Regions from separate parts of the Homo sapiens genome. Here region 2 is linked to region 1. Evidence: fine-mapped expression QTL. A gene starts in region 1. The other region holds a variant in brackets. All regions are shown on one strand. Distances are between the middles of the regions. Region 1 holds the start of CIPC (CLOCK interacting pacemaker). Region 2 holds the start of LINC02289 (long intergenic non-protein coding RNA 2289).

Region 1 (8,332 bases):
GAAATTCAACAAATGTGCATAGTATAATTTTCCTAAAATAATACTGTCCAAAAGTGAATAGAAGCCATCTCCAAAATGGAAGTAGATGAGGCTTGTGGATGGGCATTCAAACTAATTCATGTCGGACCAGGCTGTTGATTTAGATTAGGAGGGTAGCTCATGTTAGTTGCAACTAATTAAGAACCTTACTTAGGTTCTTAGGTTCTTGAAGTTTCACATTATCTTACTAAACATGGATTATTTTACAGGTACTTTAGATAATGCATCCCAATTTAGTCTTCTACAATCCTTGCGGCAAAACAATGAAAAAGGTCTTGCTATTATTATTAAAGTGTAGTCAATAGAGCTACAGAAAATACACAGGAATTTATTCTGGCTTATTGAGAATTTGTAGGATAAGAGATAATTGATCATGGAGTCAAAATACTGAAACACTGACAATCGGTTTTTGAGGCTCAGAAAATAATACTCCCAAGTATGGCACTTTAGCATAATGAGCACTTTGTTGTTGCTTTTTGTTTTTTTCTGAGACTGTGTCTTGCTCTGTCGCCCAGGCTGGAGTGCAAGGCCACAAACACAGCTCACTGCAGCCTCGACTTCCTGGCCATAAAGAAATTATCTGACCTGTCTTGTCCGATAGCAGATCATAAAACCCTCATTCCAGAATGGGTCCTGCCCTATAACAGAGAGGAAGGAATGCTACACAGAGGTCAAGAATAATTCTGGACAGACAGACCTTGCTGGGTTTCCCACCTCAGTCCATTACTATTAGATCATACTCTTTTTGTTTTTGTTTTGTTTTTTATTTATAGATGGATCACACGCTGTTGCTCAGGCTAGAGCGCAGTGGCACGATCACAGCTAACTGCAGACTCGACCTCCTGGGCTAAAGTGATCCTCCTGCCCTAGCCTCCTGAGTAGCTGGGACTCCAGGCGCATACCACCACACCCAGCTAATTTTTAAATTTTTTGTAGAGACTGGGTCTTGCTATGTTGCCCAAGCTGGTCTCAACCTCCTGGACTCAAGCAATCCTCCCACCTCAGCCTCCCAAAGTGCTGGGATTACAGGCATAAGCCACCATGCCCAGCCAGATCATACCCTTTTTGTCCAATCATATTTCTACACAGCCGTCCATTCTTCATCAAACCTAACCATAAAAATAGACAGTTTTCCCTGAGTTTGGGAGGCTTCACTTCTGAAGACTCCTGTGTCATAAAAAAAACTTTGATTAAATAAAACTGTTATGTTTTTCTCTTGTTAACCTGTCTTTTGTTATGGGAGGGTCAACTATGACCCTTATGGTAGGTGAGGAAAGGTATCACAGAGGTAAGTTAAAAAGAGAACAGATGCTAAATTTAGATCCTGGGGAGTTGGTGGCAGTTGGAAATAAAGAATGTAAAATCGACTTTAGGATGGCAAATTGACTATTTTTCATATGAAAATGATTAAAAATATGAAAGCCTCTATCTTCAGTAAAGTTCTCTTAAGCAGCAAAAAGCCTTAGCATTGCAGCCAGGGAGGCTCACATGGGATGTAGAACAAAGGGCTACATCCCTCCCCAAACTTTACTCTTTCGGAGGAGTAGCAGCACTGCCCTCCTGGGAGTGGCTGAGGGACCCACTCACACATAGCACCACATAAAGCCTCACTTACTACTGGTGCTCTCAACCCCAAAATTTGCAAGGCAAAGTCTGAAAACCTCGGGAAGTTGCTTGATTTTTTTCCTCTTAGATATTAGTTTACAATAAAGTTACATGCTCACACTGACTAGGAGTTGAAAATGGATTACTAAGCTCTTACCCACTGTGTTCTTTCTGCTTCCTGCTTCCTGGCATAGACTGGAAATCACTCACGCTGCTTTACAAACACATGTACCTTATTCTGCATTAAAAGGGCTAATTTAGGCTCCAAAACTGTCAGAATTTACCCTAATTGGGCCTCTTATGCATGTATATGTAACACATTGTCCAAAAGTTTCCCAGAGAGGATAGTACACACTAAAACTCATAATGGAAAGTGAATCAGGCCGGGTGTGGTGGCTCACACCTATAATCCCAGCACTTTGGGAGGCAGAGGTGGATGGATCACCTGAGGTCAGGAGTTCGAGACCAGCCTGGCCAACATGGTGAAACCCTGTCTCTACTAAAAATACAAAAATTAGCTGGGTGTGGTGGCACACATCTGTAATCCTAGCTACTTGGGAGGGTGAGGCAGGAGAATCCCTTGAACCTGGGATGTGGAGTTGCAGTGAGCCGAGATGTTGCCACTGCCCTCCAGCCTGGGTGAAGAGTGAGACTCCGTCAAAAGAAAAAAAAAAAAGAAGAGAAAAGAAAAGAAAAGAGAGAATCAGAGCCAGGCAAGGTGGCTCACGTCTATAATCCCAGCAGCACTTTGAGGCACAGGCGGGCAGATCACCTGAGGTCAGGAGTTGGAGACCAGCCTGGCCAATATGGTGAAACCCTGTCTCTACTAAAAACACAAAAATTAGCTGGGCTTGGGGATGTGTGCCTGTAATCCCAGCTTCTCAAGAGGCTGAGGCACGAGAATAGCTTGAACCTGGGAGGCAGAGATTGTAGTAAGCCGAAATTGTGCCTCTGCACTCCAGCCTGGGTGACAGAGTGAGACTCCGTCTCAAAAAAAAAAAAAAAAAAAGAAAGAAAGAAAGTGAATCAATAAATATATAAGTTTATATAAGGGGACAAAATTCAAAATCCTAGCAAGTGCTCCAAAGCATTTAGCTCTTACTACTCTTTTTGCACTTCTGACATTAGTCTAATTATTTGTCTCCTCAACCTCGAGTTGTTTTTTTCATCTTTGCAACCTCAGCCCCCAACAATTAACATGAGGCATTCAATAGAGTAATAAATTCCAACAAATCTCTGACCTGCTGAGTCTCTGACAGCTCTAGTAGCTTAGCAGTCACAGAAATACCTGAACAGCTTGAAGGTCAAGATTCTGCATTTCCAAACACCACGGTCACCTTAAGATCTAACCTCCACGTCTGGTCCCCTGCAGGAAACAGATATTTGATCTACCCCTTATTCTAAGTTGAAACGTCAGGGACAAATCCACCATCCAAATTAAGGGTTGATCTAATCCACAAACAATCTTTGTGAAGATTTGTCCTTATGATTAAAAAGGAGATCCAGGGTTACAAGAAAAGGATCTGAAATGCTGCTTTCAGATCTCTCCTTTTATAGACACTTGGCAACATTCCTGGAAGCTCAAGTTCCCTTTAAAATGTGTCACGTGTATAACATGTGTGCCTGGACAGAAGTGTGAGGTAAAAGCCCAACCAGAGGCTTAAATACAATAAAGTGATAAGGTCACAGAAAGAAAACCTTGAGTAATCCCCGTTAGAATTATAAATACATTACTAGCTTTTCTCCGAAGTCATTTTCTTTTGGCCTGCATATTCAGGGATACCATTCTGGGAGAATGTCTGGGTATCTTAACAGTGGAAAAACCCTGTCTACCTAAATGTCTAATATTCATCTTCCCTTCCACATTCATTCCATTTCTCCAACTTGGCTGAAAATTCGTGTCAAAGATCCTGAACCCCAATTCCATACAATTTCCTATGTTTTAGACCAGTTTGGCTCTATTTTCACCTTTCAAAGGGGAGATGAGCTTAGAGAACTTTCTCCGATCCCCTGCTGCAATTAGTTCACAGTAACAGTGCCCACCTACCCATTCGCACCAGCCCACGTTGCATCTGTGCCAGGCAGCATGTGCACCCTCCAGGCATCCACCAGCCTGCCAGCTCAGCAGGGCAAAACTGGGCAGACCCTAGTACTGTGCTGTGACTGGCATACCACCAGCCTTCCAGGGCAAACGCCCAGGCAATGCATACTGCCAGGACTTGAGCAATAACAGGGAGCCTAGCTCCAGCCTGTGACCTGGGCCGGGATCAGAGCTCCCCCGAACCCACCCACTAACCACTTAACTCCTTACTTGGCACTGCCCACCTTCTCCCCAGAAACACTACCCCCGACACCAAGCCTGGCAAGCTGGCCACTCAGGGGAAACAACCAGCAACGAGGGTGACGGCAGGTCTCTGGAAAAGGCAGCACACCTGTGCCCTGGAGCCAGAACAGGGTACCACCCCCGACCTCAAACCGGAAGCCCAGGACCCTCGCCCAGTTACTAGTTCTGGCGCCCACTCACCTGCCCATTGCTTGGCCCTCAGCTCCCAGCCGGGCTGGACTCCAAGCTCTCTCCCCGCCCAGCCGGCTGGCGGTTGCGCCCAGGGCTAGACCAGGGCCCACCTGCCCCTCACACAAGCCTCCTCCCCACACGCAGCCCCCTCCTCACCCGCGATTCCCTCTCCCACGCCCCTCACAGCAAACCAAAGCCCTGCTCCCACCATTTGGCTCTCCGTCCTCCGAAAGTCCCGGTTTGCCCCTCTTGCCTACTCGCTCCTCTTCCTCTCTCCCCTACTTCCACCTCCTTTCCCCACGCTCCTCGCCCAATCCCTCTCCCGCCGTCATCCCTGCTCCCCTCCTCCCGGACCGAGCCCTCCCTTTCTCACCTAGGGCCGGGGTCGCAGCTCCACGACCGGCCTGTGGGTCAGGTGGCGCATGCGCGAGCACGGCCCCGCGGCACCATGACAACCTCGTCGTCGCTGGGTGTCTCGCTATCCCCACAGCCTCCCGCCCATTTCTCCTCCCCACGCCTCCGCGACGGCTTTCGCCAGCCACGTGACCCGACTCGGATGACCCGGCACCATGGAGACCGCACGCTGTTCTCCTAGAAGGGCCCTTGGAAATGCGCCCTTTCCCCGCCCCCGCCGGAAGACCAGGCCGGCGCGGGGCGGGGCCAGCGCTCAGAGGCCTACGCTCTGTCCGCGGCCGGCGGGCGTCTCTATGGTTGGTTCCTCAGGCCTCGCCGCCATTTTGTACGGGGGCCTTGAGCAATGAGCGGCTTGGGCAAGGTTTCCAGGCGGGGTTCAGAGGAGCCGGGGGTGGGGCCGGCTTGGAGTCGATACAGAGAGAGGAGCGACTCTCGCACTGTCTTGGTGCGTGCCGCCGTGCCGCCGTGCCGCCGTTGGGGGTGGGGGCCGGGGCGAGTCGTGTCCGGCCTGTGCGCGTGCCGGGAGCGACAGTGCCCGGCGTGGGAGAGCGGGCGTGCGGGCGGCCTCAGCCTGGAGTCGCCGTGACAGGGGTGCCAGACCTCCCCGCGTGCTCCTCGCATTTTCTCTACGCCTGTCGCCCTGTTTGTTTTTTGTTCCCGTCCACCCTCGAGACCGTGCTTCACGAGGTCGAGGCGCGATGAGTTATTTTAAGTAGATGATTTCATGACCTTTGATGTTTGACTGACTTTGTCATGTGCTATGGGTTTTATATGGATGCTGTTTCTTGGTGAAGGTTCACGGTGAACACACGTGTGTAACAGCTAAAGAAAAAAAGGGCTTGGGATCAGTTGACGTTCTGATGCCTTGAATCAGTGAAGGTTACTTAGAAAAAGAATTATTTCGCTAGTGAAAAAGAGGACATGGGCGAGTTTAAAGAGTTGACGGGTCGAGGCAGATTCAAGAGCTGAGCTGTCCAGTAAGATGGTCACTAACGACTGGATAAGTTTCTCAGTTGTACTAGCCACATTTCAGGAGCTCAGTGACCTCTTTATTGGACAGTGCAGATTATATATAGCCCATTCCCAGCATCGCAGAAAGTTATATTGGACAGTGCTGATTTAGATAGTGGGGAATTGTTTTATACTGGTCATCCAGGCCTTTGTAAGTGCTGCTAGGTCGTGGTTAATCACGTTAGTCCTCTAGACACAGGTAATTCTAATGTATTACTGGGTATGGGTGTACTTGTTAGTAGTCAGCTTTACCAACAAGTAATATGCCTACACCATGTAAGGCTTTTGTTTTGGGGACAGAGTGAAAGCAATAGTTAACAATTACCAAGTAATTAGGAGCCGGGCCGCTTTATATGCATCCTTTTATGATTCCTTACAAGTTTATGACGCAGGTGGTATTTTTTTCCAGTTGTGTGGCGTTTTTGCCCATTAGGACTCAACTAAAAACCCATGGCTTTGGCCAGGCACAGTGGCTGACGCCTGTAATCCCAGCACTTTGGGAGGCCGAGGCGGGCGGATCACCTGAGGTCAGGAGTTCAAGATCAGCCTGGGCAACACGGTGAAACCCCGTCTCTACTAAAAATACAAAATTAGCTGGGCGTGGTGGCACATGCCTGTAATCCTCGGGAGGCTGAGGCAGGATAATCGCTTGAACCTGGGAGGCGGAGGATGCGGTGAGCCGAGATCGTGCCATTGCACTCCAGCCTGGGCAACAAATCTCCGTCTCACCAAAACAAACAAACGAAAACCGTGGCTTTTATCCATGAAGCTATTAATATATTGCCTTCTTTTGAAGTGGAATAAAACAATCTGCCTTCAGATAACTTAAAATCTGATATGGGAAATAAGACGCGCTGTAATAAATAATATGAAAGAGAATGGGATAAGTACCAGAAGATTGTGAACAAAACCTAATTAATAAAATAAAGGGAGAAAAAAAAACTTTGTTTTTTTTTGGTTGTTGGAGTAGGAAGAGATCAGTAGGTAAATCTTTAAGGATAGCTAAAAGTTGGATTTGCAGTAATGGAAGTGGGTGAGAGTACGACGCACACAAAGCAAAAAAAGAATCAATGAAATAAGCAAAAGCATGAGGTGTGGTCCTATCTTAGTTTTCCGAAGGGGCAAATAAATAAACTATGAGAGGAATGAATTAATGGCATTTGCAGCAACCTGGATGAGATTGGAGACTTATATTCTAAGTGAAGTAACTAAGGAATAGAAACCCAAACATCGTATGTTCTCACTCATAAGTGGGAGTTAAGCTATGAGGATGTAAAGGCATAAGGATGATACAGTGGACTTTGGGGACTCAAGGGGAAAGGGTGGGAAGGGGGTGAGGGATAAAAGACTACAAATTGGGTGCAGTGTATACTGCTCAGGTGATGGGTTCACCAAAATCTCACAAATCACCGCTTAAGAACTTACTCATATAACCAAAATGCCACCTGTTCCCCAAAAACCTATGGAAATAAAAAATTTAAAAAACAGCAGCATGGATACTAGGCTTAATACCTGGGTAACGAAATCATCTGTACAACAAACCGCCATGACACAAGTTTACCTATGTAACGAATCTGCACACGTATCCCTGAACTTAAATAAAAAACAAAACAAAAATAAAATTCAAAAAAAAAAAGAATAAAAGTCTGCCTTCAAATAACTTACAATCTGATATGGGAAATAAGACATGATGTAATAAGCAATATGAAAGAGAATGGGATAACTACCAAAAGATTCTGAACAAAACAATAACATTAAGGGAGAAAAAAAAAACTTTCTTTTTCGGTTGTTGGAGTAGAAAGAGACCAGCAGGTAAAGCTTTAAAGACAGCTTGAAAGTTGGGTTTGCAATAATGGAAGCAGGTGAGGGGATAATGCATACCAAGCAAAAAAGAATCAGTGAAATATGCGAAAGCATGAGGCCCTCTTAGTCCTCCGAAGGGGCAAATAAACCAAACTTCCTTGACTTTACCTACATCTTGAGCAGACAGCCATGCTGTACCAATAACTTAAGCTTCAGACAAGTATTGTAATGGAACCAAATGAATCAAGACTAATGATAGGCATAATTTTTATGATTATTTTATGCTATGATTCTATATAATTAGATATACAGAATAAGCAATTCATGAAGATTGATAGTGAATATTTTTATGTAGCTAAACCACCGTAAACGTTTTTCTTCCTTTCCTATTAATTTACCAAGATTTGTAAATCAGCATCTATTGATAGTTTACTGGTGCCACGAATTCTTTAACCTTCACTCACTTTACTCTCTTTACTCTTGGTTGGAGTAAGGACCCTATGATGGATGGGGTAAGGACCCTGTGATGGATAGTGGGTTCTGAAGCACCTATTCTTCTTGCTGTAGGGTCCTTTCCAATTCAAGTTCTCCCCAGTACCATTGTGGTCTAGGTTCGGTTTCCTACCACCACAACCAGCAGGGGGAGACATGCGCCCTTAAATCCTACATTTAGGGACTTGCGAATGTTTCTTTTTTTTTCCCATCTACTTCTTGAAATTGTAACCTGCCTATCCGTGTGAGGATTTGAGTTTTTAACCCTGCCTAGGATACCATGAAGAGTCAGCCATGGGCCGAGTTTTATTTGAAGATATTTTAAGTGTATTATGTTATACAATTTAAAATATTTATAAACGATTGTTTAATAATTGTTGAATTTAAAATTAAAGTCATTTAAAAATATTTAAAAGTGGGCCAGGCGCAGTGGCTCACACCTGTAATCCCAGC
Region 2 (8,332 bases), 22 kb after region 1:
GATCTTAGAATAGATGTAATGCAACATTTAGTCTCTCAGAAAAGGCAAATTTATTTCTTTCTCACTTGAGGTATTCATTGCAGATTGTCAGGATACTCTGCTCCACAAGGTCATTCAGGGATCCAGGTTCTTTGCATTTTCCTGTCATCTCTTAGGGCATCATTTTTACTAGCATGGCAAAGCTAGGTCTCAGGCAAGATCATGTTCTGGTTCAAGGGAAGGGGAAAGAGTAAGGATGAGACATGCCCACTATCTTTTTTTTTTTTTTTGAGTCTCACTCTATCACCCAGGCTGGAGTGCAGTGGCATGATCTCAGCTCACTGCAACCTCCGCCTCCTGGGTTCAAGCAATTCTCATGTCTCAGCCTGCCGCATTCCCACTATCTTAAGGCCTAGGTGTAATCATCTCTTCTGCCCATATAGTGCAAACTTAGTCATGTGGTCACACCTAACTGCAAGGTGTCCCCCAAGTGACTACTCACTCCAGGGCTGGGACTCACATGTACTACGATTTGAACTGCAAGGAAAATTGGGAAATGCTATCTCCAGCTGAGCAACTATGGACCCAACTACATATATGTTACTATGAAAAAATGGGAGGAAAAATCTTGGTAAAACTCTGGCAGTCTCCATTTTAGAGATCCATCTGAATGAACCATCTCAGATGCTAGTTTATCTTAGAGATACCTGAAAGAGTTCTTGTTTGTCACCTGGAGGTTGATTTGGACAATCATGGCACAGGTATTATACTACCACTCGGCAGAGTCTTCTTTAAACTTTTAGCTCTCACCTTAATCAATTTAAGAGTGAGCTTCTTTTTGGTATAAAGACTTTGGTAGGTCAGGTGTGGTGGCTCACACCTATAATCCTAGCACTTCAGGAGGCCGAGGTGGGCAGATCACTTGAACTCAGGAGTTCGCGATCAGCCTGGGCAACATGGTGAGACTCCATCTCTACTAAAAATACAAATAGTAGCTGGGTGTGGTGGTGCACACTTATAATTCTAGCTACTCTGGAGGCTGAAGAGGGAGGATTCTTTGAGCCTAGGAGGTTGAGGCTGCAGTGAGCTGAGATCTCACACTACACTCCAGCCTGAGCGACAGAGTGAGACCCTGCCTCAAAAAAAAAAAAAAAAAAGAAAAGAAAAGAAAAGAAAAAAAAGACTGTGGTAGCTATGTATTGCTTTTTGTCATCAAGAATCCTTTCACCTGTCTCCCAGTGGTAGTATGCTACTTTCCTCTTGGGAACCCCACTTCCCCATTCTTGATGTCCCACAGACAGAGTTGACTCCACTCCCAGATCCAGAAGTGGTTATGTGACTACAACCTGGCCACTTAGGCCATCACATTCCCCAGCCATGGTGTCTTGCTTGATGATGGATTCATGTTCAAGTCAGAGCCAGTTCAGTGGAATGAGACTTTTGCTGGGACTGCAAAAAGAAAAGCACTTCATGTTTTTTCCTCACAAGTCTCAGGCATAGGAAGAGGTGGGACTGGATTGCTGGCAGCCATCTTATCCCAACAAGAAAACGCTATGGAGAAGAGCAGCATCGGGGATAAAGATAAAGCCAAATCTTGGTGATATTGTTTGAATCCCTGGATCAAGCTTGGCCTGAACCAGCACAATGCCTAATCCCTGGTCTGCTTAGTTATATGAAACAGCATCCCAATTTAAAGTCATTTAGAGGTGAATTTTCTGTCACTTAGTGCAACCGAGAGAGTAATAACTGATGCGAAGGCCACATAGACTTGGCCTTTTTTTTTTTTTTCCTGAAGTATAAATTCCCTTAGCATCTGTGTGGCCCAGCACTACACTCTGGATCTCCTTAGCTGTCTGGTCACTGAATGGGGACTGCTACTTGGCCGTGATTCTCAACCAGGGGTAATTTTGCCCCCAAGGGACAGTTTTGTCATGGAGTTGGGGGAGGCGCTACTGGCATCTTGTGGATAGAGGCCAGGGATATTCCAAAACATCCTACAATGTACAGGGCAGCCCCGACAACGAAGAATAATCCAGCCCAAACTGTCATTAGTGCTCTGTAGATGGTTTTGGCTGCTATAACAAAATACCTTAGACTGGGTAATTTATAAACAATGGAAATTTATCATTCACAGTTCTGGAGACTGGAAAGTCCAAGGTCAAGGCGCCAGCAGATTCAGTGTCTTGTGAGGGCTCATTCCTCATACATGGTGCCTCCTCTGTGTCCTTGCATGGCAGAAGGGGTCAACAAGCTCCTTCAGGCCTCTTTTATAAAAGTCTTAATCCCATTCATGAGGGGAGAGCCCTCAGGACCTAATCATGTGGCAGGCAGATTGTCTGAGGTCAGGAGTTCGAGACCAGCCTGGCCAACGTGGAGAAACTCTGTCTCTACTAAAAAAAAAAAAAAAAAATAGCCTGCTGTGGTAGTGCACACCTGTAGTCCCGACTACTCGGGAGGCTGAGGCAGGAGAATTGCTTGAACCTGGGAGGTGGAAGTTGCAATAAGCCGAGATCACACCATTGCACTCCAGCCTGGATGACAGAGCAAGGCTCTGTCTCAAAAAACAAATAAATAGGCCGGGCGCGGTGGCTCACGCCTGTAATCCCAGCACTCTGGGAGGCCGAGGTGGGTGGATCAAGATGTCAGGAGATGGAGACTATCCTGGCTAACACGGTGAAACCCCGCCTCTACTAAAAATACAAAAAATTAGCCAGGCGCCGTGGCAGGCACCTGTAGTCCCAGCTACTCGGGAGGCTGGGCAGGAGAATGGCGTGAACCCTGGAAGCGGAACTTGCAGTGAGCCGAGATCTTGCCACTGCACTCTGTCTGCCTGGGCGACAGAGCGAAACTCTGTCTCAAAACAAAAAAAAACAAAAACAAAATAAATAAACAAACAAATAAATAAATAAATAAAGAGTGTTAGGAGCCTTCTCTCCTGTAAGCTGTGAACAACTAAGCTTGTTTAGGTCCTGAAATGTCACTGTCATTGTCAGCATGATAAATGCTTTGTGCTGTAATAATACAGAGAAACAGGATGTCTATTCCCCAAAGCCTCTGTGATGGAGAAGGTGGGCTTTCCAGAGGCTCTGACTGTGGAATGTGTCTAGAATCCTCTGCATGTTTTCCAGGTTCACCTCCACACCCTCATCTCTGCTCAGCCGGGTCCTTGCTAGGAGCAGGAACCTGCCTGGTGGGTCTCTGATGGCAGCCCCATGCTCTGCAGACCCCGGACTCTCCGCAGCCCCAGCTCCTGCCTTGTCCTGTTGTCTTCCACCAAGGGGCACCCTTCTTTAAAAAGCTGGACTCTTTTTTTTTTTTTTTTTTTTTTGAGATAGGTTCTTGCTCTATCACCCAGGCTGGAGTGCAATAGTGCAATCACAGCTCACTGCTGCCTCCACTGCCTGGGCTTAAGTAATCCTCCTGCCTCAGTCTCCTGAGTAGCAGGGACCACAGACACACACCAACACTCCAAGCTAATTTTTAAAAATTATTTGTAGGGATGAGGTCTCGCTATGTTGCCCAGGCTGGTCTCAAGCTCCTGGCCTCAAGGGATCCTCCTGCCTTAGCCTCCCAAAGTGCTGGGATTACAGGAGTGAGCCACTATGCCCGGCCCAAGACTGACTCTTAAAAAAGGACAGAGCTAGTCCCAAGCTTGTGCAAGGACAGTGAGAGAGGGGAGACTCAGAAGTAGCCAATTTTTCCCCCAGTAATTAATAAGACATTTAAAGGACTTATCAGGTCACCACAGCTCCATCATCCCTGGGGAATTGTTTGGTTTAGCAGAACTGTTCCCACCCTGCCCCCCTTTGCTTTCTTCTTTCCTTGCCCAGACCCCTCCCCCAACTTAGTTGACGTTGCACAAAGCTTTCAAAAAAACAAGTTTTGTTCCCAGGTCAGCTATATCCTCCCAGGAAGTTTCCCCATCCCAGGGTGAAGTCAGGCCAACACAGGGTGAAGAGTTAGGAGGTCAGGGGCGGGGGAGGGGCGGGTGTTTTGCACGGGACAAGGAGTTCTTTTTTGTTGTTGTTATTCTTTGCGTCATTTCCAGAGAGA[C/T]AGGAAGGAAAACATAGTAAACATTCTTCAATTCTGCACAAAAGCCGAGAAGGGATTTTCTTCAGGAACCTCCTTGTGGCTCTGCCATGGCGGGGAGGGTTGGGGGTAAGAAATATAAGACCCAATTCCCTGTGGAGGCGGGGATTCGGTGAAACCAATCCCTTGAATGTGGGGTGGAACCAACATGTAACTCAATTTGCTTTGGCTCTCACTGTGCATTTGAGCTAAAGCAAGGGAAGCATTTCCCCTTCCCCTGGCTGAAAGCTCAGCTGACCCCGAGGCTCTTCTGGTCATGCTTAGGTATGTACATTTTATGTCACGAAATCCAGTATCGACTTAGAGATTTAAAGCAGCCACCCAAAGATATTAAATGACTCTTGCATTTTTCTTCAAAGAGAAATCTTCTTCCTCCTGCCCTAGTTAAGGCCTTAGTTGGGGGCTGCCAGCTGCCAGGGACTGGGCATGGTGGCTTTTGTCTATTCTCTCCCGAATACCCCTCTCCCCACTTGCTGGTTGCTTTCAGAGTCTAAGTGGAGGTGGTGGGTGAGGATGCAGGGAAGCGGATGGGGAGCAGGGGAATAGGGCAGTTTTTACTTGACTGTATGATTGCCAGCTCTCTGGGTGTGGCAGATGGTGAAAGCTCTTTCTGGAGGGTTCCCTGTGTTCTTCAGAAGTTCCCATCTCAGCCAGGCTTGGTGGCTCACGCCTATAATCCCAGCACTTTGGAAGGCGGAGGCGGGCAGATCACTGGAGCCCAGGAGTACTAGACCAGCCCGAGCAACATGGCTAAACCTCATCTCTACCAAAAATACAAAAAGTATCTGGGGGTGGTGCTGCACGCCTGTAGTCCCAGCTACTTGGGAGGCTGAGGCAGGAGGATTGCTTGAACCCAGGAGGTAGAGGTTGCTGTGAGCCGAGTTTGGGCCACTGGACTCCAGCTTGGGCAACAGAGTGAGACCCTGTCTTAAAAAAAAAAAAAAAAAAAGTTCCCATCTCTAAGGTTTTCTCCTGAAGTTCCCTGTTCTGCACCTCCATTTCAGGTACAGCTATGACTCCATCTTCAACCCCTAGAAATCCAGCATCCTCTTCCAACTTCTTTCTGCTGACATCCCTTTGCCCTTCTCAGAGGCCCTACAGGACTTAAAATGACCCCCACCTTGGCCCTCTCTCCTGCCATGGTCCATCTGATCCACATGTGGCCCATGGGAAGAACTCACACAGCCCCTTCACTCATCCTAATGCAGTCCCTCCTGGCACAGTCCCATGGGGGCCCACAGCTCCAAGTGGCTGCATGGAAGCCCCCATCACTAGGCTTGAGTTGAAAGCAGTAGGGCCCCTAACTCCTTGGTGGGGTAGCTTACAGCATGGCTTTGCCCTTTCTGGAAGTTTCTATTTCCAAACTCTCCCCATTCTCCACACTCTATATTGTTGGTAGGCTGAGGGCCCTGAGTGCTATGCAACTGGTTCCCCATTATTTCCTTTGTAAATACTACATATGGGAGTCTGTCTCATGTTCAGTTTGCTATCTGATGATATTGTGGTAGCCTGCTTCCACAATGGCCCCTCATTGTCCCCATCTCCTGGTATTCACATCATTGTGTCTCCTCCCTCCGTGAACAGGGCCGACCCTTGTAGCCACTTGCTATTGCAGAGCTGATGGCATGCATCTTCTGAGGCTAGGTCATTGTTGTGTGTTTAATGATGTCCCCCAGAAGATATGTTGCAGCCCTAACCCCCAGGGCCTATAAATGTGACCTTTTCTGGAAATAGTCTTCGCAGTTGTAATCAAGGGTTGTTCTTGACTAGAGTGGGCCCTACATCCAATGACTGGTGTTCTCATAAGGAGAGAGAGACAAAGAGTAGACAGACACAAGGGAGAAGGCCGTGTGAAGATGGAGACAGAGATTGGAATGATACAGCCACAAGCCAAGAAACATCTGCGGCCGTCAGAAGTTGGAAGAGGCAAGGAATGATTTATTCTTTCCCACTCATTGTTTCACCAATGAGCACCTTCCATGTGCCACCGTTCTGACCCTGCTGACAATGTGGTTTCAGACTTCTGGCCCCCAGAACTGTGAAAGAGTAAATTTCTGTTAAGTTATCTTGCTTGTGGTACTTTGTTACAGCAGCCCTGTGGATCTAATATAGTCATAAGAGACATTGTGACCTCCTCCCTGCTCTCTTGAACCACTCATTCTGGGAGAAGTCAGCTGCCATGTCATGAAGCTACTCAGGGAGGTCCATGGAGAGGTCCACATGGCAAGGAACTGAGGCCTCCTGCCAGTAGCCAGCACCATCTTGCTGGCCATGTGAGCGTGCCATCTTAGATGCAGATCATACGGCCCCAGTCAAGCCTTCAAATGACTGCATCCCTACTTGACATTTTGACTGTAACCTCATGACAAACCCTAAGCCAGAACACCAGCTAAGCCACTCCCCAATTCCTCATCAAGAGAAACTGAGATAATAAATGTTTATTATTGTTTTAAGCTACTAAATTTTGAGGTAATCTGTTATGTAGCAATAGATAACTAATACTGATATCTGTCATATTGGGGCCTCAGTGTAACTTGGAACAGAAAGAGTTCCATATTATAATTCTTAAACATTACTTGGAATGGTTAGGGGCCCCAGTGCTATTCTCTCTGGGGATATTTCCAGCAATGGGCCCCACAGCCATTTATAGTGAGTTGTCCCACTTACTCTTTCACCAGTGAGCACTTTCCATGTGTCAGATGCCATATTAGAGACTGGGGCTATAGAAATGAACAGTCTTTTGGGAGGCCGAGGCAGGTGGATCACCTGAGGTCAAGAATTTGAGACCAGTCTGACCAACATGGAGAAACCCCGTCTCTACTAAAAAAAAAAAAAATACAAAATTAGCTGGGTGTGGTGGTGCATGCCTGTAATCCCAGCTACTTGGGAGGCTGAGGCAGGAGAATCACTTGAACCTGAGAGGCGGAGGTTGTGGTAAGCCAAGATTACACCATTGCACTCCAGCCTGGGCAACAAGAGTGAAATTCCATCTCAAAAAAAGAAAAAAAAGAAATGAACAGCCCTGTTCTTAATCACTTAACCAGTGGTCATTATGGTCTCTGCTAGTAGAGCACTATGGGCAAGAAGGACAGCACTGCTTTGCAGGGAAGGGAAAAGAGAGACATCACTGAGGCACTGAAGAGGAGAAGCATTCAGTGGTATGACCTTGAAGAGACAAGAAGAGGACCAAGTTCAAGAGTCTGCAAGAACAGTGGGAGGTAGAGCTGGAACTAGAATCCAGACACCCCACTTCTAGTCTTGAATTTGCGCTTCCTGAACTACACAGAGGCTGGCTCATGGTACCAGGGTCTCTAAAGATACCTGGAGGCATGAACTTGAATCCTGCTGGGATACTACTCTTTGAATAATAATTTCTCTATGGAAAGGCAGGGTACAAAGTCTTGGAATCTTGTTTCTGCTCTGCCATCTTAGCTAAATAACTCCCTTTGGAGATCCTTTGAACCCTGATAGATCAGCAAGCCCCCTCTGAAACATCATAAGCCTCAGGGCAAGAAGGCTGGCCTTCTCCTCCATCTGAATCCCAGCCCTTCTTTTTTTGAGATGGAGTTTTGCTCTTGTTGCCCAGGCTGGAGTGCAATGGCGCGATCTCGGCTCACCACAACCTCTGCCTCCTGGGTTCTAGCGATTCTCCTGCCTCAGCCTCCTGAGTAGCTGGGATTACAGGCATGCAAAACCATGCCCTGCTAATTTTGTATTTTAAGTAGAGACAGGGTTTCTCCATGTTGGAAAGGCTGGTCTTGAACTCTCGACTTCAGGTGATCCGCCCGCCTCTAGCCCTTCTTAGTAGTGGTGTTTTCTAAACAGGTTAGATAAGAATTTGACACCTGCTGAAATCTCCAGGCTGGCTCCTCCCAAGGTCAAATTGCACATCTTGCCAACGAGAACAGCCTTCACTTCTTGAGCATCTACTCAGCAGCAAGTGATTTCTCTAATCTTCACAACACCCTCTCAAGGCAAGGGATCATGGGCCACACTTGGCAATCTAGGAAAGTGAAGTTCAAGAACAAGCCCCAGGACACACAGCTAGTGACAGCGAGGCACAGAGCTGGGATTCCAACCCAGGCCTGTCTAACCCTAAAGCTCCTCCTATCCACCTCCTCCTTGCTGCCACAGAAGGTGACTCAGAGGTACTCAGTCTGGAGAATTCAAGCCAGTATCCCAGGAAGTGGAATTTTCTCCAGTGTTCTAGGAAGGAGGGATTACCATGGCATGGGGTGGGCCAGGTAGACACAAGAGGCAGTGA

Evidence for each region.
Region 2: its variant is fine-mapped to the expression of CIPC in whole blood (TOPMed, PIP above 0.99).

Annotation. Positions count from the first base shown.
Region 1 is chr14:77,094,562-77,102,893 of GRCh38, reverse strand. It overlaps CIPC (CLOCK interacting pacemaker), which reads right to left and starts at 4,636. Exons shown (of 4, transcript NM_033426.3): 1 at 4,533-4,636. It overlaps LOC124903350 (a long non-coding RNA gene), which reads left to right and starts at 4,876. Exons shown (of 2, transcript XR_007064275.1): 1 at 4,876-5,018; 2 at 5,994-6,429. RefSeq lists enhancers at 1,702-1,751, 3,866-4,025, 4,165-4,994, 5,356-5,405 and a silencer at 5,026-5,175.
Region 2 is chr14:77,072,105-77,080,436 of GRCh38, reverse strand. It overlaps LINC02289 (long intergenic non-protein coding RNA 2289), which reads left to right and starts at 4,246. Exons shown (of 3, transcript NR_110553.1): 1 at 4,246-4,332. RefSeq lists a silencer at 4,097-4,391. The variant C/T (reference allele first, on the strand shown) is at 4,033.